Linked DNA regions of Homo sapiens. The protein of the gene in region 7 interacts with the protein of the main gene of each other region in a pairwise test. Each region holds a gene or a part of one and is shown on either strand. Other genes may lie near its edges.

Evidence for each region.
Region 1: the proteins of SORBS3 (region 7) and SETD5 interact in binary tests that used the Homo sapiens proteins (3 or more experiments, as listed by UniProt).
Region 2: the proteins of SORBS3 (region 7) and NCKIPSD interact in binary tests that used the Homo sapiens proteins (3 or more experiments, as listed by UniProt).
Region 3: the proteins of SORBS3 (region 7) and OIP5 interact in binary tests that used the Homo sapiens proteins (3 or more experiments, as listed by UniProt).
Region 4: the proteins of SORBS3 (region 7) and NAF1 interact in binary tests that used the Homo sapiens proteins (3 or more experiments, as listed by UniProt).
Region 5: the proteins of SORBS3 (region 7) and NFKBID interact in binary tests that used the Homo sapiens proteins (3 or more experiments, as listed by UniProt).
Region 6: the proteins of SORBS3 (region 7) and ABI2 interact in binary tests that used the Homo sapiens proteins (3 or more experiments, as listed by UniProt).

What each region holds. Positions count from the first base shown.
Region 1 is NC_000003.12:9,435,615-9,439,114, reverse strand, and holds part of SETD5 (histone-lysine N-methyltransferase SETD5), read right to left. Parts: intron 3,388-3,500; coding exon 3,209-3,387; intron 2,266-3,208; coding exon of another isoform or gene 2,227-2,265; intron 1-2,226.
Region 2 is NC_000003.12:48,679,416-48,682,915, forward strand, and holds part of NCKIPSD (NCK-interacting protein with SH3 domain), read right to left. Parts: coding exon 3,488-3,500; intron 3,138-3,487; coding exon 2,933-3,137; intron 2,742-2,932; coding exon 2,630-2,741; intron 2,366-2,629; coding exon 1,872-2,365; intron 815-1,871; coding exon 644-814; intron 473-643; coding exon 386-472; intron 299-385; coding exon 160-298; intron 43-159; coding exon 1-42. UniProt on the Homo sapiens protein: Has an important role in stress fiber formation induced by active diaphanous protein homolog 1 (DRF1). Induces microspike formation, in vivo. In vitro, stimulates N-WASP-induced ARP2/3 complex activation in the absence of CDC42.
Region 3 is NC_000015.10:41,326,092-41,329,591, reverse strand, and holds part of OIP5 (protein Mis18-beta), read left to right. Parts: intron 1-3,500. UniProt on the Homo sapiens protein: Required for recruitment of CENPA to centromeres and normal chromosome segregation during mitosis.
Region 4 is NC_000004.12:163,135,891-163,139,390, forward strand, and holds part of NAF1 (H/ACA ribonucleoprotein complex non-core subunit NAF1), read right to left. Parts: intron 1,361-3,500; coding exon 1,309-1,360; intron 1-1,308. UniProt on the Homo sapiens protein: RNA-binding protein required for the maturation of box H/ACA snoRNPs complex and ribosome biogenesis.
Region 5 is NC_000019.10:35,887,452-35,890,540, reverse strand, and holds the end of NFKBID (NF-kappa-B inhibitor delta), read left to right. Parts: intron 1-50; coding exon 51-167; intron 168-486; coding exon 487-651; intron 652-1,928; coding exon 1,929-1,982; 3' UTR 1,983-2,589; downstream 2,590-3,089. UniProt on the Homo sapiens protein: Regulates the expression of IL-2, IL-6, and other cytokines through regulation on NF-kappa-B activity. Functions in the regulation of inflammatory responses.
Region 6 is NC_000002.12:203,331,394-203,334,893, forward strand, and holds part of ABI2 (abl interactor 2), read left to right. Parts: intron 1-3,500. UniProt on the Homo sapiens protein: Regulator of actin cytoskeleton dynamics underlying cell motility and adhesion. Functions as a component of the WAVE complex, which activates actin nucleating machinery Arp2/3 to drive lamellipodia formation.
Region 7 is NC_000008.11:22,561,927-22,565,426, reverse strand, and holds part of SORBS3 (vinexin), read right to left. Parts: coding exon 3,496-3,500; intron 1,441-3,495; coding exon 1,350-1,440; intron 1,145-1,349; coding exon 1,058-1,144; intron 960-1,057; coding exon 906-959; intron 619-905; exon of another isoform or gene 554-618; intron 421-553; exon of another isoform or gene 354-420; intron 160-353; coding exon 73-159; intron 1-72. UniProt on the Homo sapiens protein: Vinexin alpha isoform promotes up-regulation of actin stress fiber formation. Vinexin beta isoform plays a role in cell spreading and enhances the activation of JNK/SAPK in response to EGF stimulation by using its third SH3 domain.

The DNA.
Region 1 (3,500 bases), on a different chromosome or scaffold from region 7:
GGCAGTGTCCAAACAATATTCCCAGCTTTAAGTGGCAATTGTTAAACTTACACTTGATAAGTGTACTGTATTCTGGAAGCCTCTGTCACAGTATTAGCCATTGTTCGCTAATCTCACTGTGTGTTTACTCTGCTGTCCCATCCTTCAAGGCATTAGAGACTCTACCTCAGTTGGGTTTAGAGTAGTGGTTCTCAATTGAGGGAAATTTTGCACCCAGGTGACATTTGGTAATATCTGAAGACATTTTTGATAATCTCAACTGAGTGTATGAGTGTTACCGGCATCTAGTGGGTAGACACCAGGGATCCTGTTCACATCTTGAAAGCACAGAACAGTCCCTTCCACAACAAAGAATTATCTGGTCCAAACTGTCAACAGTGTCAAGACTGAGAAACCCTGATTTACAATTAAGTCTTCAGTAGGGAAGCTGCTCTTGACACTGGGATTAAAAATCCAAATGATAATTTTTTCTAATTCTTATGGCTCCCACCTGGATCACTGGAGGAGTTTTAAACTAGTAATTCTGAGCATAAAATTTATAACTCAATTTAGAATTAAAAGAATCAAAATGACTAGTAATTTTTTTTTCTAAATTTTAACACACCTGTGAGGCTGTCAACCTCCCAAAACTGTAAGCAAAATATGGGGTTTATGTGCAGTTTTCTGGTAGAGCCAGTTTATAGCTTTTGAAAGGTTTCGAGCTTCTGGAGATAAGTTATGATAGTTGCTTGATAAGAGAAAAGCATTTAGTAGCCAGGATTAGGGCTATTATCTGCCTCCAAAGTCTATTTAAAAGGCCCCTCTCTAAGCAAATGAGACAAAAATAAAGGGGAAGCTAAAGCAAACTTGGCCACTTGCAAGAGACGGATCCAGCAAAGGCATGATTGATTTGTCTTCCAAGACACATCCCAGGCCTCTGATGCTCTGTAGCTCTGAGTCCTCTCCCAACTCTTTCACAGGTATGTGCAAGTCTGTTTAAAGATAGATACTAAGTGGGGCCTTCAAACTTTAGGTAAAGTGCTACCTGTAATCTTTGCTAACACCAGTCACACTGGTGCTGCACATAAAGCAATCCTAAAAAGCTTATCCTTACTGAATTTTTTTTTTTTTTTGAGATGGAGTCTTGCTCTGTTGCCCAGGCTGGAGTGCAGTGGCGTGATCTCGGCTCACTACAACCACTGCCTCCTGGGTTCAAGCGATTCTCCTGCCTCAGCCTCCCAAGCAGCTGGGACTACAGGTGCCTGCCACCACGCCTGGCTAATTTTGGTATTTTTAGTAGAGATGGGGTTTCACCATGTTGGCCAGGCTGGTCTTGAATTCCTGACCTCAGGTGATCCACTTGCCTTGGTCTTCCAAAGTGCTAGGATTACAGGCGTGAGCTACTGCGCCTGGCCTTACTAAAGATTTTAATATTTATGCCCTATAACTCTCAATAGGAAAGATCCTGCTTTTGTATCATTTAGGAATATGAATACTCATAAACTTGAATTTAATTCTATTTAAATGCTTTGAAGCCCCCAGTAATAATTTGAGAGGCATGTTTTCCTCATATATATATATTTATACACACACACACACACACACACACACACGTAAAGGAGGATACCAGACAGCATAATCAAATCTCCTTTTGGCAAGCTATTTTTAATCAACCAGCACCTTACACTTCTTTTAAACCATTCCACATACTTGCTCTATTCTCCAAGTTCTTTACAAAATCATACTTCATAAACTCTTTTATTTGATATCTTAAGAAACATGCTAGCATTACCTAAGTTTTTTCCACCAAACAGATATGCTAAGAGAAAACAGTAATTCTTATCAATAATACAAGCGTCCTGCAATTAAAGCCCACACAGTGCTAGGGTAGATGCACAAGAGATCCTGTATCATTACCAGAAAAACTCCACTCCTAAGGTTGAGTTCAATCACAGTGACAGAACACACTAGCCTCATTTTGTTTGGAAAAATGTCACTTACCCCCTAGGAAAGCAATGAATGAAAAACCAATCAATGAAGGCTGATTACAGAAAGGGAAAATATTTCAGAAAATGGCCAAGAAAATCTACTTTGGAGAAAAGCTCTATGAAAACTGAATGGCAACAACTACAAACTAATGAAAAGCAGAGTCCAAGATTCCCAGACCATCAATGTCAGGAAAGAAGCTGACCAAAATGCAAGATCACAGTGAAGTAAAACACAGCATCAGCGAAGATTACCCCTTACCTTCATCCGCAAGGACTTCCGGGATCCCTCTCGAAATGCCTATCCCAAGGAGGAAAACAAGTAGAACAAACAAAACTTGGTACCAAGAATGACAGTTATACCTATCTGAGACTAAAACTAAGGCACAAACTAGTGTTCTATTCTGTCCCCCTTTCTCTAGGTAAAAAATACAATGGAATTCCCCAAACTATTACCAAGAATAGGGGTAGCTCAAGGCCAATGAACTCTGAGACTAATTTTAATACTTTCTACTGTGAAGCTAGGTAATTAACAGGGAAGAGCATGCATCTCTTAAATCCTATATGCACCTCTGATACTAAGAGAAAAAGTAAATAAAAAAAAACTTTAAAGTTGCAGATTTACCAGTTTTGAAACTAAGAAGGAAACAAAGACCAATCCCCTTAACAAGGGATGAACAAGTCACCTAGAAGCAACAAAGTTGCTGTGATGGGGAAGAAAGAACACAAACCAGAAGAAGTTTCTCCCGTAGACATTTTAGCTGAGAATACAGGAAAGTGACCATGACACTGAGGAAACCTAGACCATACAAGAGATGTTTCCTGATTTTTATTTTTTTTGAAACAAGGAAAAACAATCAACCCAAAGACATGAGGCATGTAACCAGGACAAGAATTTCAGACTGTACTTTGGGGTTGAGAGGTGGGGAGATACTGTAAGGATAGTGGAAGCCTAGACTTGAGGCTGCAACACATACGGGATTGTGCCAGGTAGGGCTGGAATTTCATACCTGGGATGGGGACTGGAGTAGAAGAAACTTTGAGCCAGTGGTGATGATATGGTGTGGCAGAAGAGAGGTTGGTCTACATGTACATAACACAGATTAGCTGATTTTTGCAAGTAGAACAAAAGTGGCCCTTCAAACACCTGGATCAAACTTCTTAAAAGAATTTTGGTGCATTCTTGCTCCAAAATTTAAGCTATTTCAGACAATTTCTATTTAAGATATTTTTACCCTGCATACCTTGATTTTCTTCGTCTTTGGTGCTGCACGACCCTTTTCTGGACTCTTTTTCCGCTTCTTGGGTTTGGTTCTTCTAACAGTTAAGGTGATGCTTGTAGGTGTGTGCTGTGTTGCTGTATACAACACAGTGGAAGGAGAAAGCTCCTCATCCCAGCTTTCTGTTGCACTGCTATCCCCACCTGAAAAATGATGATTTCATAGTTCAGGTACTAATAGCCTCAAAAGTACATTAAAAGTAGCTTATTCTTTTAGGTGTGCCCCACATGCAGTAAGCCATTACTTCCACTATTAA
Region 2 (3,500 bases), on a different chromosome or scaffold from region 7:
CCATGGCCAGGATGAGGGCAGAGTAACAGAGTTTCTGGTGGTCTGGGGGGGACAAGGCAGGCAGTCAGAGTCCCCAAAGATGGCAGGAAACCCCAGCAGATGGCAGGAACACCCTCCAGATAGCAGGAAGTTCCCTCCTACCCCGCCCTCCAGCCTCACCCTGCGTGTCTGTCTGCATGTCCCTCGCCAGCTCTACAGGCAGCACGGATGACACAAGCGTGGAGATGATGGCTGCATCCAGGCTGCACATGGCGCCAAAGCACTTGAGGAGCAGCAGCCGCAGTGATGCTCGGTGTTCCTGGCAGGGAACCCTGCGTGCTCAGTGCCTGGAACTCCCCCACTATCTAGGTCTCTCCATTACCCCTCCCCTCCATCCTGCACATACCATTTGGTAATAGGCCACCAAGGCCAGGACAGACTCGAACTCGTTTCTCTTGCACATTTTCTTGCAAACTTCAGGGTCTGCATCAGTCTACAGAAATGAGGAAGTGAGAGCATCAGCCACCATGAGCGGAGCTGTGCAGCCGCACAAGAGAGGGCTGAGCACATATGTGTAGGGGAGACTCCTAGCACTGTGAGGGATGCTACAGGGTGGGGGCCACTGTTCCCCATGTGGGGTATGTGTGTGGGACCCCACCCTTACCAGAATATGCAGCAGCTCCTCTAGGTAGCAGCGGATGACACCCTCATCCTCATATAGTGCCCAACTGCGCTGCTGGGCGTCGTCCTTCCGGCGAGCCAGGTCTGCAAAGATCACCTCCAGCCTCTGCTGGTCGTGGCAGACCTGCCCTGAGGGCAGGGCCATGCTGAGGTCCTAGAGGGAGAGGGCAAGGCATGACTCAGCACACTCCCTGCCCTCACCATCTCCAGGGAGCCTCCAAGGCCTGGAGAGTCCATCTGTGGACTTTTACTCCATGAACTCAAGTCCCTCCTGGCCCACACTGGACAGGAGGCTCAACTCCAGTCTTGATGACCTCCCAGGACAGGAGTCAACGGGAGACTCATCTGTAGGGGGTTTTCAACAGCTCGCCTCTCATCCCAGACCTGGATAAACACCCCCAACTAGGAGGGCCATGAACTCTGTCACTGCCAGAATGTGACTCTGAGACCTCACTCTCCCATTCCACACAAAATGGCACAGGCCTGTCATCTACCAACTTGCCACATTTTCCTTGAACCCTGCTGACCAGGCACTAGCTGTTGTGCCCAGCACAGCCAAGCCCATTGGCCCACTCCCCAACACCCAAACCAGAAGTGTAACAGGAACCATGGAGCACTAAAGAGGGACCTTTGGTCTGTCTGACCCCCATCATGTATGCTGGGCTCACTGCCCCCATCCTGCTCATGAGTGCCAAGGATCCCACCCATCCCATGATGCCCACACACCTCACTCCCTCTCATCCATGTCAGCACCTAGGACTCCATCCCAGCTCTCCCAGCACCCATGTCTCTTACTGCCAAGGTCAGCAAGGCACTACCCTCACCCACGCCGTGTCCATTCCTTCCCTGCAGCCAGACAGAACTCTTGGCCACCCGCATGTCGTCTTATCTGTCACCTGCCCCAGGTCTCACCTCCTCCTACAGCACCCACTCCCTCACTCCCTGTGTTCCAGTCCTGCAGGCCTTGTTCCACTTCCTCCCACAAGCCAGGCTCAGTCCTGCCTTGTGGCCCTTGTCCAGGCTGCGCATCTGCCTGGAATGCTTGTCCTTCCTTTCTGCTTCAGAAATCAGCTCAACGTCCCCAGTGCCCAGCACAGTAAGAGCTCAGAGCCAGAGCTTGAGAAATACCTGTAATGTACAGGCTGGACAAGTGTGTGACGGTGGGAACAGGGTGGGTAGCAGGGTGGCCCTGCTGTGCCGCCCACCCTCACCTTGCCCTCTACGAGTGAGAGGAGGACCTGCTCCATGACTGGTGAGCTGGCCGGCACCGAGGCCTGGATGTGACCCACTATGATGCCGATGGCCACCCGGCATAATTCGTGGCTCAGGCCAGTGTTTCTCCGCACCAGCTCCATCAGCTCGGCCCCAATGGTCCTGGGCACAGCCGCCTCAGCTGCTGCCTTCTCCTCTGTGGTCCCCAGGCTCAGTGTACCCAGGGCTTCCAGGTCATCAGAGGCTGAGGTTGTACCAGTTGCCACTTCTTCTTCTGCAGGGGGTTCAGGTGCTGATGCCTTGGAGGGAGGGGGCTGGACTTGGGACACGGTGGTGTGGGTGCCTCGGCGGGGCACAGGTGGGGGTGTGGGTGAGCAGCTGGAGCCTGGTTCAGATGGGCTGGAGCTGGTATAGAGCGTGTCCAGGGAGGTGCTGCTGACTGAGGAGCCGCTGGACACAGAGTTACCCCCGGAGGGCATGGTGTTGTGGCCACCTGCGAGCAGTGAGTAGAAGCTGGGCCAGGGCAGCCCCCTGGAAAACCATACCCTTCACAGCCCAGATCCCCTGTCCCCTAACACAGGGCCTAGTTTCTCTGCTAGGCACTGCCTCCTCACAAAGCCCAGAGCCCCTAATTGCCCCAAAATGGGAGTCCTGTCCTCTTCCCCAGCTTAGAGCCTCCATTTCCCTGACACAGGCAGCACAACCATTCCAAGCATAGGGTGCCTCCACCTGAATTCCCCTAACCCTGCCTTCTTACCACTCCCAGAGGCCATCAGGGCCTCGCGGTCTCGGCGCTTCACTGGTGGGGGCGGTGTGGTGGGTGCTGCTCGGCGAGGCTGTGGTGGGATCTGGGAAGATGGAAGTGGGATCTGGAAGATGGAAGTAGGATCTTGGAGGACAGACTGACATCTAGAGCGTCAGCGAGGCTCGGGCCCTGAGCCCTGGCTGTGGGCAGGACTATGGCTCTGGGCCGCATCACTCCTGAGTGGACCCCTTGAGCCTCTGGATGAAGCCTCAAGTTCCACCCACCTCCCTTCTCCACGATGTCCTCCCCACACACCTGGTAGAGGCCTCCATCTGCCCCAAGATGCTCAGAACTGGGTAGGCTGTGCTGCCGCTCGAACCCAGCTCGACACACCCCATTGGGCTGCCTGGCTGCAGCAGCATCCAAGTGGTGGTCACTGGTTGATGAGGTCATAACTGCAACACTGGAGGCTGAAGGGCCTCTGCGTGACAGGGTCTCTTTCCGGTGGTGGATCAGCTTCCTGATGGAAGGACAGGAAGACTATTGGGGGGTTGCATCTCACAGCTCAAAGTCCTCATATGCCCCTGTGGGATGCTGGGACCCCATAGCCCAGGCCCCTCAGACATCCCCATCTCCTCCATGCTCCACCCCAGCCTACAGTACCCCATACTATCCTCAGTCCTGCGCTCTGCACACCCCTGGTGCTCACTGAAGGACCCGACCCCACCTTGCTCACTGGGAGGTGCCATTCCCCCACCACCCTTGCCAACCCTCGCATTTCCCAGGCCCACCTGCCCCATGACACTCATTGAAGAACCCCACCCCACCATGCTCACCGGGAGGTCCCACTTCACTCCCCTCAACACTCACTGGAGGACTCCAC
Region 3 (3,500 bases), on a different chromosome or scaffold from region 7:
CTATAATCCCAGCACTTTGGGAGGCCAAGGCAGGCAGATCACAAGGTCGGGAGTTCGGGACCAGCCTGGCCAGTATGGTGAAACCACGTCTCTACTAAAAGTACAAAAATTAGGGGGGCGAGGTGGCAAGCGCCTATAGTCCCAGCTACTTGGGAGGCTGAGGCAGGAGAATGGCTTGAACCTGGGAAGCAGAGGTTGCAGTGAGCCAAGATCGCACCACTACACTCCAGCCTGGACGACAGATCGAGACTCCGTCTGAAAAAAAAAAAAAAAAAAAACTAGAGGGAAAGCCCCATGTGTTTCTGTATTTGTGGAGTAAGATGAGCTATATGGGACTTACGAAGAGGGTTATGAAATGGCACAGCTCAAGACAACTTGATTTTTTTCTAAGTGTAGGTTCATTACCTAGATGGGGTCAGAGAATGAATTAAGAGGATGATTAATGATGCAGCTAAAAGAGCATAAATTTTAGAGACAGCAGACTCGGGTTCTTTTTATTCTTTTTTTTTTTTTTTTTTTTTTTTTTTTGAGATGGAGTCTTGCTCTGACCCAGGCTGGAGCACAGTGGCGGGATCTTGGCTCGCTGCAACCTCCGCCTCCCGGGTTCAAGCTATTCTCCTACCTCAGCCTCCCGAGTAGCTGGGATTCCAGGCGCACGCCACTATGCCTGGCTAATTTTTGTATTTTTATATTTTTAGTAGAGACGGGGTTTCACCATGTTGGCCATGCTGGTCTCGAACTTCTGACCTTGTGATCCACCTGCCTCAGCCTCCCAAAGTGCTGGGATTACAGGTGTGAGCCACCGCACCAGGCCTTAACTTTACTCTTAATGAGGCATGTGAAATAAATTGATCCCTCTCAATCTGTCATATTTGAATACTCCTAAAATATACTCCCTCCGACATTTATTTAAACATTCTACAATTGGCATGAACCTCTTAGATTCAAAGTCATAAAGTAGACAGATACAAGGTTACTTCCGTCTACATTTTATTGTTCTCTTACTGGTAGAGGATTTATTGTAACTAATTTTAAAAAGGATTATTATAGTATGTTGACACTTAGAAATAGCTTTTTTACCCTGAGCTTTTGTTGTGCTCAACAGCATATTTAAATGGAATTTTGTTTGTATTATAAGTGAAGTACATTTTTTTCTAATTGTTATGGCAAATTCAAACCCGAGAGAAGAATATAATGAACCTCTGTCTACCTGTCACTAAACTAGAGCACTTATCAACTCTTGGCCAATCTTGTTTCATCTAAAATCATAGTTGGCTTATCATGCTGGCTCACGCCTGTAATCCCAACACTTTTGGAGGCCAAGGTGGGAGGATCACTTGAACCCAGGAGTTCAAGACCATCATGAGCAACATAGCGAGACTTCATCTCTAAAACAAAACAAAATATCTATCCTCCACAATGTTTTGAAGCAGATACCTGAAATTACATCATTCCATCCATAAATATTTTGGTAAGGATCTTTATAAGAAACTTTTTTCTATTTATTTATTTTTTGAGATGGAGTCTGGCTCTTTTACCCAGGATGGAGAACAACCTCCGCCTCCCAGGCTCAAGCCATCCTTTCACCTCAGCCTCCCAAGTAGCTAGGACTATAAGGCATGCACCACCATGCCCAGCTAATTTGTTGTAGAGATAGGGTTTCAACATGTTGCCCAGGCTGGTTTTGAACTCCTGAACTCAAGTGATCTGCCCACCTTTGCTTCCCAAAGTGCTGGCATTACAAGCATGAGCCACTGCACTCAGCCTTTCTTTTCAATTATTTTATTTTATTTTTTATTTTTTTGAGATGGAGTCTTGCTCTGTAGCCCAGGCTGAAGTGCAGTGGCAGGATCTTGGCTCACTGCAAACTCCGCCTCCCGGGTTCAAGTGATTCCCCTGCCTCAGCCTCCCGAGTAACTGGGACTACAGGTGCATGCCACCACATCTGGCTAATTTTATGTATTTTAGTAGAGACGGGGTTTCACCATGTTGGCCAGGATGGTCTTAATCTCCTGACTTCGTGATCCTCCCACCTCAGCCTCCCAAAGTGTTGGGATTACAGGCGTGAGCCACTGCGCCCAGCCTCTTTTCTTTTTAAAGATATATCCCAATTCTGGCTGGGTACAGTGACTCACGCCTGTAATCCCAGCACTTTGGGAGGCCGAGGCGGGAGGATCACGAGGTCAGGAGTTCAACACCAGCCTGGATGACATAGCGAAACCCCATCTCTACTAATACAAAAATTTGCTGGGCGTGGTGGTGGGCGCCTGTAATCCCTGCTACTGGGGAGGCTGAGGCAGGAGAATCGCTTGAACCCAGGAGGCGGAGGTTGCAGTGAGCCGAGATCACACCATTGCACTCCAACCTGGGTGACAAGAGGAAGACTCCATCTCAGAAAAAAAAAAAATTTAAACATACCACAAACACTATAATAAGCCCCAGGTACCCAGTTTCAACAGTTATTAATATTTTGACAATTATTTTCCTCTATACTCTTCACTTTTTTTTTTTTTTAATTCCTGGAGTATTTTGAAACAAATCACATACAGTAAATCAACTCTTCATCACTTTGGTATTACTTCCTGTTGTCTTGTAGATTCACAGACTGTTATAACCAAAAAAATAACATAATCTAGTTGACCTCATTCTACTGATAAGGATATGGAGAAACAGTTGTATTTGGTAGTGTATTGGAAGTATTTTCCTCCTATAATATTCTCCAGTGCCCATGATCCAATGTAATGATGGAAGGCCCAGCAAGCTAGGTGATGCTAACCCTTAGTGGCAGAGCAAGGCAACCCAAAGCAGCTCAGCACGGATGGTTAGAGACGTAGTACCTACTGTGGTAAGATTGTTAAAAACATGGGGCCGGGCACGGTGGCTCACACCTGTAATGCCGGCACTTTGGAAGGCCTAGGTGTGCAGATCACCTGAGGTCAGGAGTTCGAGACCAGCCTGGCCAACACGGGGAAACCCCGTGTCTAGTAAAAGACAAAATTAGCCAAGCGTGGTGGTGCACGCCTGTAATCCCAGCTACTCACTTGGGAGGCCGAGTCAGGAGAATCACTTGAACCTAGGAGACGGAGGTTGTGGTAAGCCAAGATCACGCCATTGCACTCCAGCCTGGGGAATGAGCGAAACTCCATCTCAAAAAATCACAAACAAAAAACAATAAGGAGCCACAGACTATACACATGATCAGAGGCAAAGTGTGGGAATGAAGTTCTTTTTTTCTTCTACAGTGGTCAACTTAGGATAAATTTTTTTAAATCATAAACCATGGTTTAGCCACTGAGGCACCGCTATATCATTAATCTCACTATCTGAACTTATTGCAATTTTCTTTTCCTTGTTTTATAGTAATATTCAATAAAATATACTGTGTTTTACTGCACTTGCAGATACTGCTTTTTTGTTTGTTTGTTTTTTTGAGATGGAGTCACACTCTGTCACCTAGGCTAGAGTCCAGTGGCATTATCTCGGCTCACTGAAACCTCTGC
Region 4 (3,500 bases), on a different chromosome or scaffold from region 7:
TAAGATGCTATAGATACTCTAAAACTTAATTCAGAACATTAAGTGAATATTCAGAGCCTTAACTGAAATCACATAAATACATAACATTAATTAGAAAACATAATTCCATTTCAATTCAGATACTAAGCAAGGATCATTCACTGGTTAAGTGATTCATACCTGTATAGAACCCTCCAAGTGGGCATAAACCTGATTCATACCTCAGTAAAATTAGAAACACAGATCATGATTTACGATTGCTTTAAACATCTAAAATGGCCAAGGTTAAATCGGTAAGTATCAAAAATCTGTAATACTGGCTGGGCAAGGGGCTCATGCCTGTAATCCCAGCACTTTGGGGAGCCAAGGCAGAAGCTTGCTTGAGGGCTGGAGAATCACTTGAGGCCAAGAGCTTGAGACCAGCCTGGGCAACACACTGAGACCCCCATGTCTATATTTGTTAAAAAAAAAAAAAACAAAAAAAAAACTGTAATACTGAGAAAACTTCATAAGAACTGCTGAGCAAGCTTTAAAAACTCTCATGTATAATTTTTACTTATAAAAATATTTATATACATTTTTATTTTATACTGTATAAATACATGCTATTTTTAAGAAATGAATATATTCATTGTTGTAATTCAAAAAAAAAACCCCTCAAGATAATCTGCTTAAACACTTTCATGGAATGTTAACCAAGTAATCCTATTAAATCATTAACTTATTTACATATTATTCCTAAATTTACTTCACATCTCTAGGAAGACTAGATTATCAAGTCACCTTGGGGCATAAAACTATTGTTTTGCTGACATAGATACAAAAAGAAAATCAAGGTCTCTTTTTAGAAAGGTAGTTATATCGTAAAAAGTAGAGAGGTAGGTAGCTTCCAATGATCTTGTGCTTCCAATGATTCTGTACTTCCAAAAGAAGGACAGCTATTAAAAGCACCATGTCTTCATGTCCCATATGGTGTATTTACTAAACTCAATTAAATTTTTAAAAAATAATGACAGCCTGCCTTTATCAGACATCAACAAAGTTGACAAAAATAGTAAACTACAATGTAAATGATAAGGTGATAATTATTAAAATACAACTAAATGTAACTGAAAAAAGTTTTTTTCCTAAATGATCAATCAAAACCTTTCACTGAAAGGTATGAAATAGTCATCTAGGACGGTGAGAGAATACATGCGCTAGGACAGGATAAGGCAGTATGGCTGCTAGCCAGTATTAATGACTTCCCTAACAGCAAGAATGATAAAATTTATAAGATTAAGTCCTGCCCTACTTTATAAAATGTTGCATAAAAAGACTTATACTTACCTCTGGTGGTGGTTCCTGATCATTCTTCCATGATGCATCTGATCCCTTATCCCTGAGTGGGGTGGGGATGGGAGTCAAAAAAGTATTCATCACAATTCTATTAAGTGCTCATAACTTAAAAGTACAGAAAATAATAAAGTAAAGGACATGAGTTCAACCTTTAATTTTGCAATACAGTTATGTGTCTTTTACCTTATTTCAAAAGATGTGGGAAGCTCCTAAGAAAAACACAAAAGTTGAGCAAGTAGAAATATTAGGATTAGGGAACTGGAATGAGAAGCCAAGGCTATGGTGTGCAGTGGAAAGCAGATGGACAGCTCTTTTGATTTTTGTTTTCATAATATTTGCAGTTTTCACAAAACTCAGTTTAAAAAAAATGCTTATTTCACGCCAACTGTAGATCAGAAGTTGTTCCATGTGCGAAGGACATAAAAATGACTATGAGGCATTCCCTTTTCACAGATTTTACAGGTTTAATGGCAGAGATATCAATATGAATTATTTTCTCCTCAGTTTACCTGAGGAATGTCAGCAATCCTCTATGAGTAACCAAGGCTTATTCCAACACTGATTCTCAAAGCAGTGAGGGTCAAACAAAGGCTAACTATGAATAGTTGGAGGAAGAGGAAGAGAAGCTGCTTTAAAGATTCTGAAGGACAATATAATGACTGGCATGTGTGAAATGTGTAATTGCAGCTGAAAATCAACAACTTTTGGTGGAGAGTTTTACACTTTACATCCAACAAAAGTACAGATATCTATTATGAGCAGTATAATTTGTGAAAGCTCATTTTTAATCTTTTTAATTTTGTTAATTTCATAGTTTCAGCTACTATTTTGTTATTCCATTATGTTAAAATATCACAAAGTAAAATATTACAAAGTATTAGGACTAGATGTCCTTATTGTTTTAAACTAGATCTCAAAAATAAATGAGATTCCCAGGAATTAAGGCCATTAAAATCAATGTACAGATGTCAGTTTGCTGGCACAACATGAAAGTTATTAAGTTTGCTTTAAATTTTTGATTCGGAACTTTGACATTATATATGAGCCATTATCAATGGCTTTTCCATCACTTAAAAGAAAAAAGCATTTCCTCAATTGTCATTTCACACATGGGCCTTAAATATATCTCTGGTATTCCTTTCTGCACATATGACATCTCATGATCTGGACTGCTGTTAGCCTGGAATCACAGACATAAATGGGAAAAATTCCCCAACTAGTGCGTCTATTACAAAAAATCAAAATCTACTAAAGGAAAGATCAAGCAACATTTCAAAAGGCACTTTTAACAAGACAGTAAGTACATGAGAAACTAAGATCAAAATAGCCTCATTAGAGAACAGTAAGCTGGAAAGGAGCTGAACTTCTCTACCTCAAAGACAAAGTACTCCACCAAGTTCCCATGACAGATGCCAAAATGAGGTCTAGAATACAACAGTTTTCCTGGGAGAGGGAGGTTTCTGCAATATAGGTCTAATTTCCCAATTCACTGATTTACTACTGCTTCTTAATAGAAGAACTGCAAATCAAAACCAAAGACTGAGTCTATTATCTAAAATCTATTTAAAAACCATCTTCAGAAAACCTCTTCAAATTTATCTGTTTTAAGCTAAAATACTCTATTTGTTAAAAAGCTAAATATATGGCATATCCACAGCAGTATCTTTATATTCAAAGCAGGATGAAATGCTAAATATTTAAAGCATTTTAGAACATATTAATATCTTGAAGACTTTATGTGTATTTAATTCATCTTTCTTGTCAGTGTTATTTAAGAAAATAACCTTATGCAATGTGAAGAATAACTTAGGCAAAATATTCCTCCAGATCTTTATGTAGATTCTTAAACATGAGTTAAATCAATTATCAGGATCAAAATTTTCATCTCTGAAATAAATGAAATTTGGTGACTTGAGACTTGATTTAACATGTAAGTGGTATAAGTAATCTTCTTATGCCATGCAACTGGGGTTGGTACCTTTGACATAATACCAAAGTTACTCAGTGACCAAAGTTCCTTTGTTTTCCTGCAAAAACAACATCTATAAAAATGTATCGCCTAGGTTTTAAGTCTCCAATAAAAGAAGAGCTAGAACTAAAAGGAACTTCTGTGTCAAACTGAGTGCAAAGTCTTTCTGGATTTAACCTTCCCCCAGTCTTTGGCAGTCTTTTCTTCCACTCCC
Region 5 (3,089 bases), on a different chromosome or scaffold from region 7:
GCACCTAGGTGTGAGGCTGGCCCTGACCTCTGCCATTCCCTTCCCCTCAGGAGATCAAGAGCAACAAGACAGTTCTGCACTTGGCCGTGCAGGCTGCCAACCCCACTCTGGTTCAGCTGCTGCTGGAGCTGCCCCGGGGAGACCTGCGGACCTTTGTCAACATGAAGGTGGGAGCTGGGGCTGGGAAGTGCAGATTGTGTGGGGTACGGTAGGGGGGGCAGTGGGATGTTAGGGGTCCTGGGGGCTGTGGACGTGGAGGGGACGATGTGTGGGATCTGCAGGGGAAAGTATAGGAAGCAGACACAGATTGCCCCAGAACATGTAGTCCGTGGACACAGGGATGCATGCAGCGTGGCTGTGGCCGGGGGAGGTCTGGGATGTGAAAGGACAAGTGTAGGACGTAGACAAGGCAGAAATTGAAGTGCAGTTTAGAGGCCTGGGCCAGCTGAGCCCAGATCCCCACCAGCCCTCCCCTTACTTTTCCAGGCCCACGGGAACACAGCCCTCCACATGGCGGCTGCCCTGCCCCCTGGGCCGGCCCAGGAGGCCATCGTGCGGCACCTGTTGGCAGCTGGGGCGGACCCCACACTGCGCAACCTGGAGAATGAGCAGCCCGTTCACCTGCTGCGGCCCGGGCCGGGCCCTGAGGGGGTAAGTAAGCACTGAGCCTGCCTGTAGAGTGGCCTCTGAGCTCGCGGGCGCGGGATGACCTCCCTGCCCCACCCAATGCTCGCTTTCAGAGAATGACTTCTAATCTCGGAAGGTGACTTCAGCCCTCAGGCAACCCTGACTCTATAATGTGACCTCTGACCTCAGTGTTTCATCCTTTACCCCAGAATGGTGACTTCTCTGATCTCTACCCCAACCCTGACCTCACAGTGTGACCTGTACTTCCAACCCTGAATCTTGCTTGACCTCAAGGTGTGACCTTTGATCCCCCCAAGTGTGACCTCCTACCCCCTGCCCCTAACCTTGGGTCCTGACCTCAGATGTGACCTTTGACCTCTTACCTGTTCCCTTCAATTCCCTCTCATTCCTCACCCCCAGGTGGGAACCCCCAGCCAGCAGCCCCTTTCCCTTCACTGAAGTTCTGCTTCCTGACCCTTTCTCAGTGTACGAACCCAGGCCTTGACCTTCTTCCCACATCTTTATTTTTATTTGTTTGTTTGTTTATTTATTTATTTTGAGGCAGCGTCTTGCTCTGTTGCCTAGGCTGGAGTGCAGTGGCATGATCATAGCTCACTGCAGCCTCGAGCTCCTGGGCTCAAGGGATCCTCCCACCTCAGCCTCTCCAGTAGCTGGTACTACAGGCAGTCACCACCACACCCAGCTAATTTTGTTTTTTTTTTTTTTTAAGAGATGGGGTCACACTATGTTGTCCAGGTTGATCTCAAACTCCTGGCCTCAATTGATCCTCCCGCCTTGGCCTCCCAAAGTGTTGGGATCACAGGAACCATCACTCCCGGCCTCCTTCCCAAATCTTTTTTTTTTTTTTGGAGGCGGAGTCTTGCTTTGTCACCCAGGCTGGAGTGCAGTGGTGCAATTTTAGCTCACCGCAAGCTCCACCTCCCAGGTTCAAGTGATTCTCCCACCTCAGCCTCCCAAGCTGGGACTAAAGGCACACGTGCCACCATGCCCGGCTAATTTTTGTATCTCTGGTAGAGGCGGGGTTTCGCCATGTTGGCTGGGCTGGTCTTGAACTCCTGACCTCAGGTGATTTGCCCACCTTAGCCCCACAAAGTGCTGGGATTACAGGCGTGAGCCACTGCACCTGGCTCTTCCAAAATCTTGACTCTGGACCTCTGATCTTCAAATCCAAAGGGACCCACTCAACCTCTCTTCTCTAGCCCCTCCCTCTGCATGGCGTGCCTTCCCCACCTCTCCTTCCAACCTGACAGACTTCTCTCCCTCCTTTGCCTTGTCTACAGCTCCGGCAGCTGTTGAAGAGGAGCCGTGTGGCGCCGCCAGGCCTGTCCTCTTAGGACTCAAACCCAGACCCTGGACTGATTTTCCAGTCCCCACCGTCCTGCGGGACAGCCAGCGTATGCTAATGTTGCAAACCCATGATAATGTATGTGGAATATCCTGCCATTGGGGTTTTACATTAAAACCCCAGAATGGCTGCAGAGGGGTGAACAGGCCCCAATATTTGGGGTGCTGTGATACCCCTCTTCTACCCACAAGGAGCCCTCTTGATGATTTCTGTGAAATCGAGGCCCCTTGATTGTTTCTGTGAAACACCCTGCACCCCTAGTCCTTTCCCCACTGAGATCTTTCGGGTTCTCTCCCCTAACTCAGCTCTTCGTTCCCAGAAACCCAGATGTAATCCCCCTACGTGGTGCTTGGGGCATCCCGATACCATCTCAGTAAATCTCCTACAATGGCCTCCTCACCCTCCCCGGGACCCACACCCTTCAGGTCCTCACCCTGAGACAGGAGGGACCCTCTGAGATCAGGGACCCTTAGGTCTCACTGCTCTCTGATTCAGAGCTCAGCTGGGCCCCCAGTTCCAGACCCCAGCATTCCCGGTCACTCCCTCCCTAATCTGAGCATCACTCAAGCTCTTTATTAAACTCAATTTGGGCCAGATTTGGTGGCTCATGCCTGTAATCCTAACACTCTGGGAGGCCGAGGCGGGCGGATCACTTGAGGTGAGGAGTTTGAGACCAGCCTGGCCAACATGGTGAAACCCTGTCTCCACTAAAAATACAAAAACAATTGGCTGGACATGGTGGCATGCGCCTGTAGTCCCAGCTACTTGGGAGGCTGAGGCAGAAGAATTGATTGAACCCAGGAGGCGGAGGTTGCAGTGAGCCGAGATTGTGCCACTGCACTCCAGCCTAGGTGACAAAGAGAGACTCTGTCTCAAAAAAAAAAAAAAAAAAAAATTTAAACTCAATTTGGACTAGAACCACTGTTGTCTGATCTCTGGGGGCACTGGTGCAGGGGAGTGGCTGTGATGCCCGCTGAGGGGTCATATTGGGATGAATGTGCCTGAGGGGGGAGGATGTAGCAGCCACCATGGGTGCCAAGTCCATATCCTGTCACCCTCACCCTGGCGACACAAGAGGGACTGGCCTTTAGGAGGC
Region 6 (3,500 bases), on a different chromosome or scaffold from region 7:
CCAGGCTAGAGTGTAGTGGCGCGATCTCGATCTCTGCTCACTGCAACCTCCGCCTCCTGGGTTCAAGCGATTCTTCTGCCTCAGCCTTCCAAGTAGCTGGGACTACAGGTGTGTACCACCATGCCTGGCTAATTTTTGTATTTTTAGTAGAGACGGGATTTCCCCATTTTGGCCAGGCTGGTCTGGAACTCCTGGCCTCAGATGATCGACCTGCCTTGGCCTCCCCAAAGTGTTGGGATTACAGGCGTGAGCCACCGCACCTGGCCAATTTAGCCTTATTATAGCATCATGTCTTAGCCACTAGCTCGAGTTAACTAACCCAACACTCATTTTATTGTGTGGAAATGTAATTTTTGCCTATAAAGTAGAAAAAAATCTGTTTATCATGTGTAATAAGTGTTTTTGCTCAGTGTTCTTTTTTTTTTTTTTTTTTTGACACAGAGTTTCACTCTGTCGCCCAGGCTGGAGTGCAGTGGCGCGATCTCAGCTCACTGCAACCTTCGTCCCCCGGGTTCAAGTGATTGTCCTGCCTCAGCCTCCCGAGTAGCTGGGATTACAGGCACGTGCCAACACGCCCAGCTAATTTTTGTATTTTTGGTAGAGATGGGGTTTTGCCATGTTGGCCAGGCTAGTCTCAAACTCCTGACCCCAGATGACCCACCCACCTCGGCCTCCCAAAGTGCTAGGATTACAGGCGTGAGCCACCGTGCCTGGCCCCCTAAGAGTCATTTTTAATAAAAATTTAGATAGTTTCATTATTCTAACCTCTAGAAAATGGGATAGTCAATATTTTTTCTAAAATATGATAAACAGGTATAACTACAGTTTGCTGATATTTATCAGATCAATTTTATTTCTTGCCTATACAAAGGATTTAGTAGTTGGTAGAGACTTTTTTTTGAGATACATGTAAGACCTGCGTTTTTCTTCATTTATTAATATACACACCTAGGCCGGGCACGGTGGCCCACGCCTGTAATCCCAGCACTTTGGGAGGCCGAGGCAGGCACATCACGAGATCAGGAGATCCAGACCATCCTGGCCAACATGGTGAAACCGCGTATCTACTAAAAATACAAAAATTAGCTGGCTATGGTGGCGTGTGCCTGTAGTCCCAGCTACTTGGGAGGCTGAGATGGGAGAATCACTTGAACCTGGGAAGCGGAGGTTGCAGTGAGCCAAGATCATGCCATTGCACTCCAGCCTGGGCGACAGAGCAAGACTCTGTCTCAAAAAAACAAAAATTACACATATAATGCCTAATATGTTTGAAGGTGTCCAGGAATTAAAAATGTTTTGGTTAACTTGGAATCTACGTTTTTACAAATAGAAGAATTTTTATTACAATATAGTTGTCTTAATGTTTTGGTAGATGAAATAACTCCCTATTTGTTACTTCCCTGAAATCTGAAAAGCCAACTTGTTGATATGTACGTTTTTCTTTTTGTTAGATAAAAGTTACTGATTTTTGTGAGTGACAGTTCACATAGATGCATAGTAAAATCTTATTGTTTGGATTAAGAGTAGAATCATCCCATAATATGGATTTATTCAAAAGAGAAGAAATTAAGAACTTACCTTAAATTTTTACCTGAAATATTTTTGAACAATAGGAGACATATTAGTAGCTTTCCTTTTCTTCTCTTAATCAATGTGGATACTCCCAGAGTTCACTAAAAACTTCATGAGAGGTTTACAAGGGAATATTATCAGTCAGTTTCATCAAAAGTAATTACCAAAATGATACAAAGATTTAAAATTTTTATTTAATAAAAATCATTAGAATACATGCTCATTGTTGAAAAATTATTGGAGAATACAAGTAGGTATTATGAAAGAAATGGAAAATTGCCCGATCATCTTGAATATATATCTGGTACTCATACTTTTAAATATTTTTTGTATGCACAACTATATATCAATATTTTTGTAGAAATGGGTTTATGTTCTATATTCTGTACCTTTAAAAGAACCTTTTAAGGATGCTGGGCTTGACTTTTTTTTAAATGGATGTCATATACTATATTGGGAGGAGGTTGGTTATATTTATAGGTCGAGTTCTGTATGTTCTTGCAAATGGGAGAATCTTAGAATACCTAGAATGAAGGAGAAAGAGGTCAGTTGAGAGTAAGGAGACTGAGTAGAATTTGGGAGACTGAATTCCCCATAGATTAAGATGACTCAACTCATTTGAAATTGATCAAGGCTTACCATTCCTCAAGAAATTAGTCCCTAACTCTCAGCAGAGACATTTGGTGAATAGATTTTCAGTGACAAATCAGTCATCTTCAAGACCTTTGACAAGATTGCAAAAACAGGCTAATTTATATTTGAGCCCCTTGCTCTTTTAAACATTTTGTCATTTGTACACTTCCTACACCTTCTTGTCCAAGGAACTTAAGTGACCTCATAATTTCCGTTATTGATCCAGGAAATCCAGTCTCACCTCATTTCACCCTTCCTTGAAGAGCTTCCTGGTTCAAAATTGCTCTTTACCAAAATAATTAATTAATAAACTGTTCATTTATTTTTTCTTTTCTTTTTTCTTTCTTTTTTTTTTTTTTTGAGATGGAGTCTCACTCCTTTGCCCAGGTTAGAGTGCAGTGGCGTGATCTTCGCTCACTACAACCTCCGGCTCCTGGGTTCAAGCAATTCTCCTGCTTCAGCCTCCTGAGTAGTTGGGACTACAGGCATGTGTCAGCATACCCAGCTAATTTTTGTATTTTTAGTAAAGACAGGGTTTCTCCATGTTGGCCAGGCTGGTCTCGAATTCCTGACCTCAAGTGATCCACCCGCCTTGGCCTTCCACAGTGCTGGGATTACAGGTGTGAGCCATCGTGCCCAGCCTCATTTACTTTTTCTTCTTACCTTGGTATGGGTAATGTGAGAATGTATGATAGGTTTACTTTATTTAGAGTCATCTTTTCTCACCCAGAGAATAATATATAAACCAAATTGGTTTACTTATGTGTAAAATATGTAGTAGAGATATTTTTGAGCATGAGGTGCTTTTGGTGTTACTTTTTCTTTTAAAATGCAGGGAATTTAATAGTATGCAGTTTCAGGGTGTGTAAGGTAATCTTTTGGTGGATGAAATATATTTGGTGGATGAATATGCTGTGATTTGCTTACACCCACCCCAAATCCATTTTGCAGCACCCTACTCACTGTCCAGAGATTCTGGGAAAAAAACAATAGAGAAGACAAAGCCAGTCTAGACACCATTTGACTCTACCTTGTGAATATTCTGAAAGTTACATTAGGCTAGTTGTAGATTTTTTTTTTTTTTGAGACAGAGTCTCTGTCGCCCAGGCTGGAGTACAGTGGTGCGATCTCAGCTTACTGCAACCTCTGCCTCCTGGGTTCAAGCAATTCTCCTGTCTCAGCTTCCTGAGTAGCTGGGATTACAGGTGCACGCCACCACGCCTGGCTAATTTTTGTATTTTTAGTAGAGACGGGGTTTCACCGTATTGGCCAGGCTGGTCTCGAGATCCTGACCT
Region 7 (3,500 bases):
GCCGAGGCTCCCGGCTCGCCCCGACCCTGCGGTCGCCGGCGTGCCCCGCGGGTGAACCCTGGGGGCTGGTACCTTGGGGGACGGCAGTCGGGTCTCAATTGCCCGCAGGTCCTTGTCCAGCTCGGCGCTCAGCTCGGCCAGCTCTCTCTCCAGCAGCACCTGGGGGCGGGGAGAGGCTGGGCAGTGAGGGGCAGCGCACCGTGGGGGTGGGAGGCAGCGGTCAAAGATCGACTGTGAAAAGCAAGGCCAGCGCACCGGGCCGGCGTAAGGGCAGGCCTCAGCGCACGGGCCGGGCTCCTGCCAGGAGGTGTGGCCCAGGGTGCCAAGAGGGCATCCCCGCCACGGCCTCTCACCTGCCCAGCACGCCCCGGGAGTGCCTACGCGCTTCCTGATCCCGCGATTCCGCAGTCCTGCCAGTTTCTGCCAAGTTGTGTCTCTGTTACAGCACCAATGGGGTTCCCCATTTCCTCTCCCATCTTCTCCCGCCCTCCAAGGCCTGGCTTCACTGTGCCCATCCAGGTTCCCCCGCCACCCCAGGGACCGGAGCCCCCACCCCCACGCTGCTTCCTGCCAGCCTCTGCTATGGGTCTTCGCCGAATCAGGCCCTCGGAGCTTCTCAAGGGTCCAGCTCCACCTCCAAGAATATTTCCTGATAATCCCAGTGCGCACTGACCACTCCCTTTTCTGCTCCTGCTTTGGCCAACACATATTTATTTAACACATGTTTACTGAGCGCCTCCTGTATGCCAGCCACTGTCCTGAGTGCTGGCATTACAGAAATAAACCATGTGGGACTGGAGAGAGAGCTCTTAGTTCGTGGCCTATGCCCATGGTTACTGGGGCCACCAAAACCCTAATCTCCCTGGTTTATCAGGCTGCTGTCCCCAGCACCCTGCAGCACTCACCTCAATGGGCTGGGAGGGCTTCTCACCAGGGTCGTCCACCAGCGGTTTCTTGGGCTGAAGGGTAGAAAGGGTGTGTCAGAGCAGGTGAACTCACTTTCCAAAATGTATCAGCTGAGGGTGCGTGCACACCCCGAGAGCCAGCCAGCACTCACCCTCTGCCCAGTCTCTAGTTCCTGCAGAAACTGGTTCCAGGACTCTTCCGTCCAGACATTGTCTACTTTTTCCCGGCGTCTGAGCACCTGCGTGGAGGTGGGTGGGTGTCAGCTTGTGAAGAGGGCTACTGGGACACTGGCCAGGCTCAAAATGCAGGCTTGCAGGCCCCTGCCCTTCCCCTGGGCCCACGGTGTCCTCCAAGGGATTCAAGCTGAAAGGACATCGTGGCATAGGGTCTTGGCCATACGGCATACAGCTGGGGCTGACCAGGGACTATGCTGGGTGGGCTACCTGATTTGAGGGCTGCAGCACAGTGGAGAATGCTCCAGGTCTGTAGTTGAAGGTGCTTCTAGGTAACTCTTCAGAGTGGTCCCAGCTTCTTCTAAAGAAAGGGAAGGACATCTCTTCAGCTTCCTTTTAGGGAGACTGAGGCAGAAGCCAGCACACAGCCCTCTCACCCTGCCCTTGTCCCTGCTGTGGGGTCTACTCTGCCTCTGACTGCCCTGCCGTTACTCTGGAAGCAAGATTAAACTGTGGAAGTGTGTGAGCTCCAAGCTTAAATTCCAGCTCTACTGTTTAGTGGATGTGTAACCTTTGAACAAGTTACTGATCCCTCAGAGCCTCAGGCTCAGAACCTGTAATATAGAAATGATTTGGTGAGAGAACATATATGAGGTGCCCGGGAGAAGGCCTCACACACATATTTGCTCCAGGTGTGGCCCGACCCTCTCCTGTGGGCCTTTTTGCTAAAGTGTCCTGTATGTGTGTTTGGTCTGGCCCCATGACTGTGGCTATGTGCGTCTGTGCAGCTTTGAAGAAGCTGGTCTTTCTGGGTGCTGTGGCTGAGTGATCGTACACCCATGGGCAAGGAAAGCCAGAGGCAGCTCTGCCCTGCAGCTCTGGCCAAGTTATTTCTGCTCCCTGGGCCTAGTTCCATGAGGGTGCTGGATTCAGTGACTCTGTCTGTGAGACCACCCCAGCCACTGCAGTACAGCATGGACACATCTGCCTTAGCTCCCCTCCAGGGCCCCTTGCTGGCTGGCTTACATGGAATGTTCCAGCCTCTGTTTGAAAGTTTCCACTGAGAGGAACCACTGCATCAGGCTTATCAAATAATACAACGTCTGACCAAGGGTTGGGATTTGTTGGCTGTAATAATGACTCCATTCTGATTTTGGTAATAATAAAAGTGACTGTGAGAATGTCATTCCTAACCTAAGGAAGCAGTAATCATAATTTTTTTTTTTTTTGATACGGAGTCTCGCTCTGTCGCCCAGGCTGGAGTGCAGTGGCGCAATCCCGGCTCACTGCAAGCTCCGCCTCCTGGGTTCATGCCATTCTCCTACCTCAGCCTCCCGAGTAGATGGGACTACAGGCACCCGCCACCGCGCCCGGCTAATTTTTTGTATTGTTTTTAGTAGAGACGGGGTTTCACCATGTTAGCCAGGATGGTCTCGATCTCCTGACCTCGTGATCCGCCCGCCTCAGCCTCCAAAAGTGCTGGGATTACAGGCGTGAGCCACCACACCCAGCCTTGTAATCATAATTAAGCCTGTATATTACTAATGTTTGTGCAGGCTTGCTATGTGCAAAACATGATGCATGATACACACATGATCACACTGAACCCTCTGGGCATTACCACTTAAAAGATGGGGACACAGAGGCTCAGACTGAGTGAGGTACCCACAGTCACATGGCTAGTGGCAGTGCACAGGCTTAAACCCAGAACTCAGCGTCCAAATCTTGAGCCCTTTGCCTCTGAACCTTATCGGTGATGCCCAGAGCTACGGGCCAGTTTCAGCCATGCTAATGAGACGAGTCCTTCCCTGCAAGGGAATAAGAAACTCAAGGATTTAACTCTGAGAGCAAAGATCCTGATTCCCACGGTGGTGCTGACCCCGCCAGGGCCCCAGCAGCCGGGCGGAGCCTGTGGTTTGCACAGAGGAAAGGAATGTCATCCTTATCCCTCCAAGGGGCTCCTCTCTCTGTGCTATCAGGCTGGAACTTGGGTTCTTCCATATCCCTTGTTTTCTCTCAGGTTTCAAAGTGGACAGCGCCAGGTCCAAGTTCCCCTCAACAGTTCTGTCCACGGCTGTCCTGGCCGCCCCACTCCCGGTCTCATAAGACCGGTGGGATCTTTGGGGCAAAGAGTTCCTGCTGCTGACCACAAACGCATCACAGGCGTTCCTGGCCAGGAGCGGGTGCCAGGTCCACTCTTGCCTACCCTTCCCCCCTTGACCCTGTAGGGAAGAGAGTCTATGGGGGTGGTGGAGACCCAGAGATGGGACAGAGCCCAGACGGACACGGAAGTGAGACCCCACTCCTGGCTGGGCTCCGAGGCTGTGCCGGCTGTGGTCACGAGGGGGCGCCCGTCCCATGGTGTCTCGCGGGCCGCGCCCCTCCGCAGCCCTCGGCCCCGCCCCACTGTGCTCACCCACT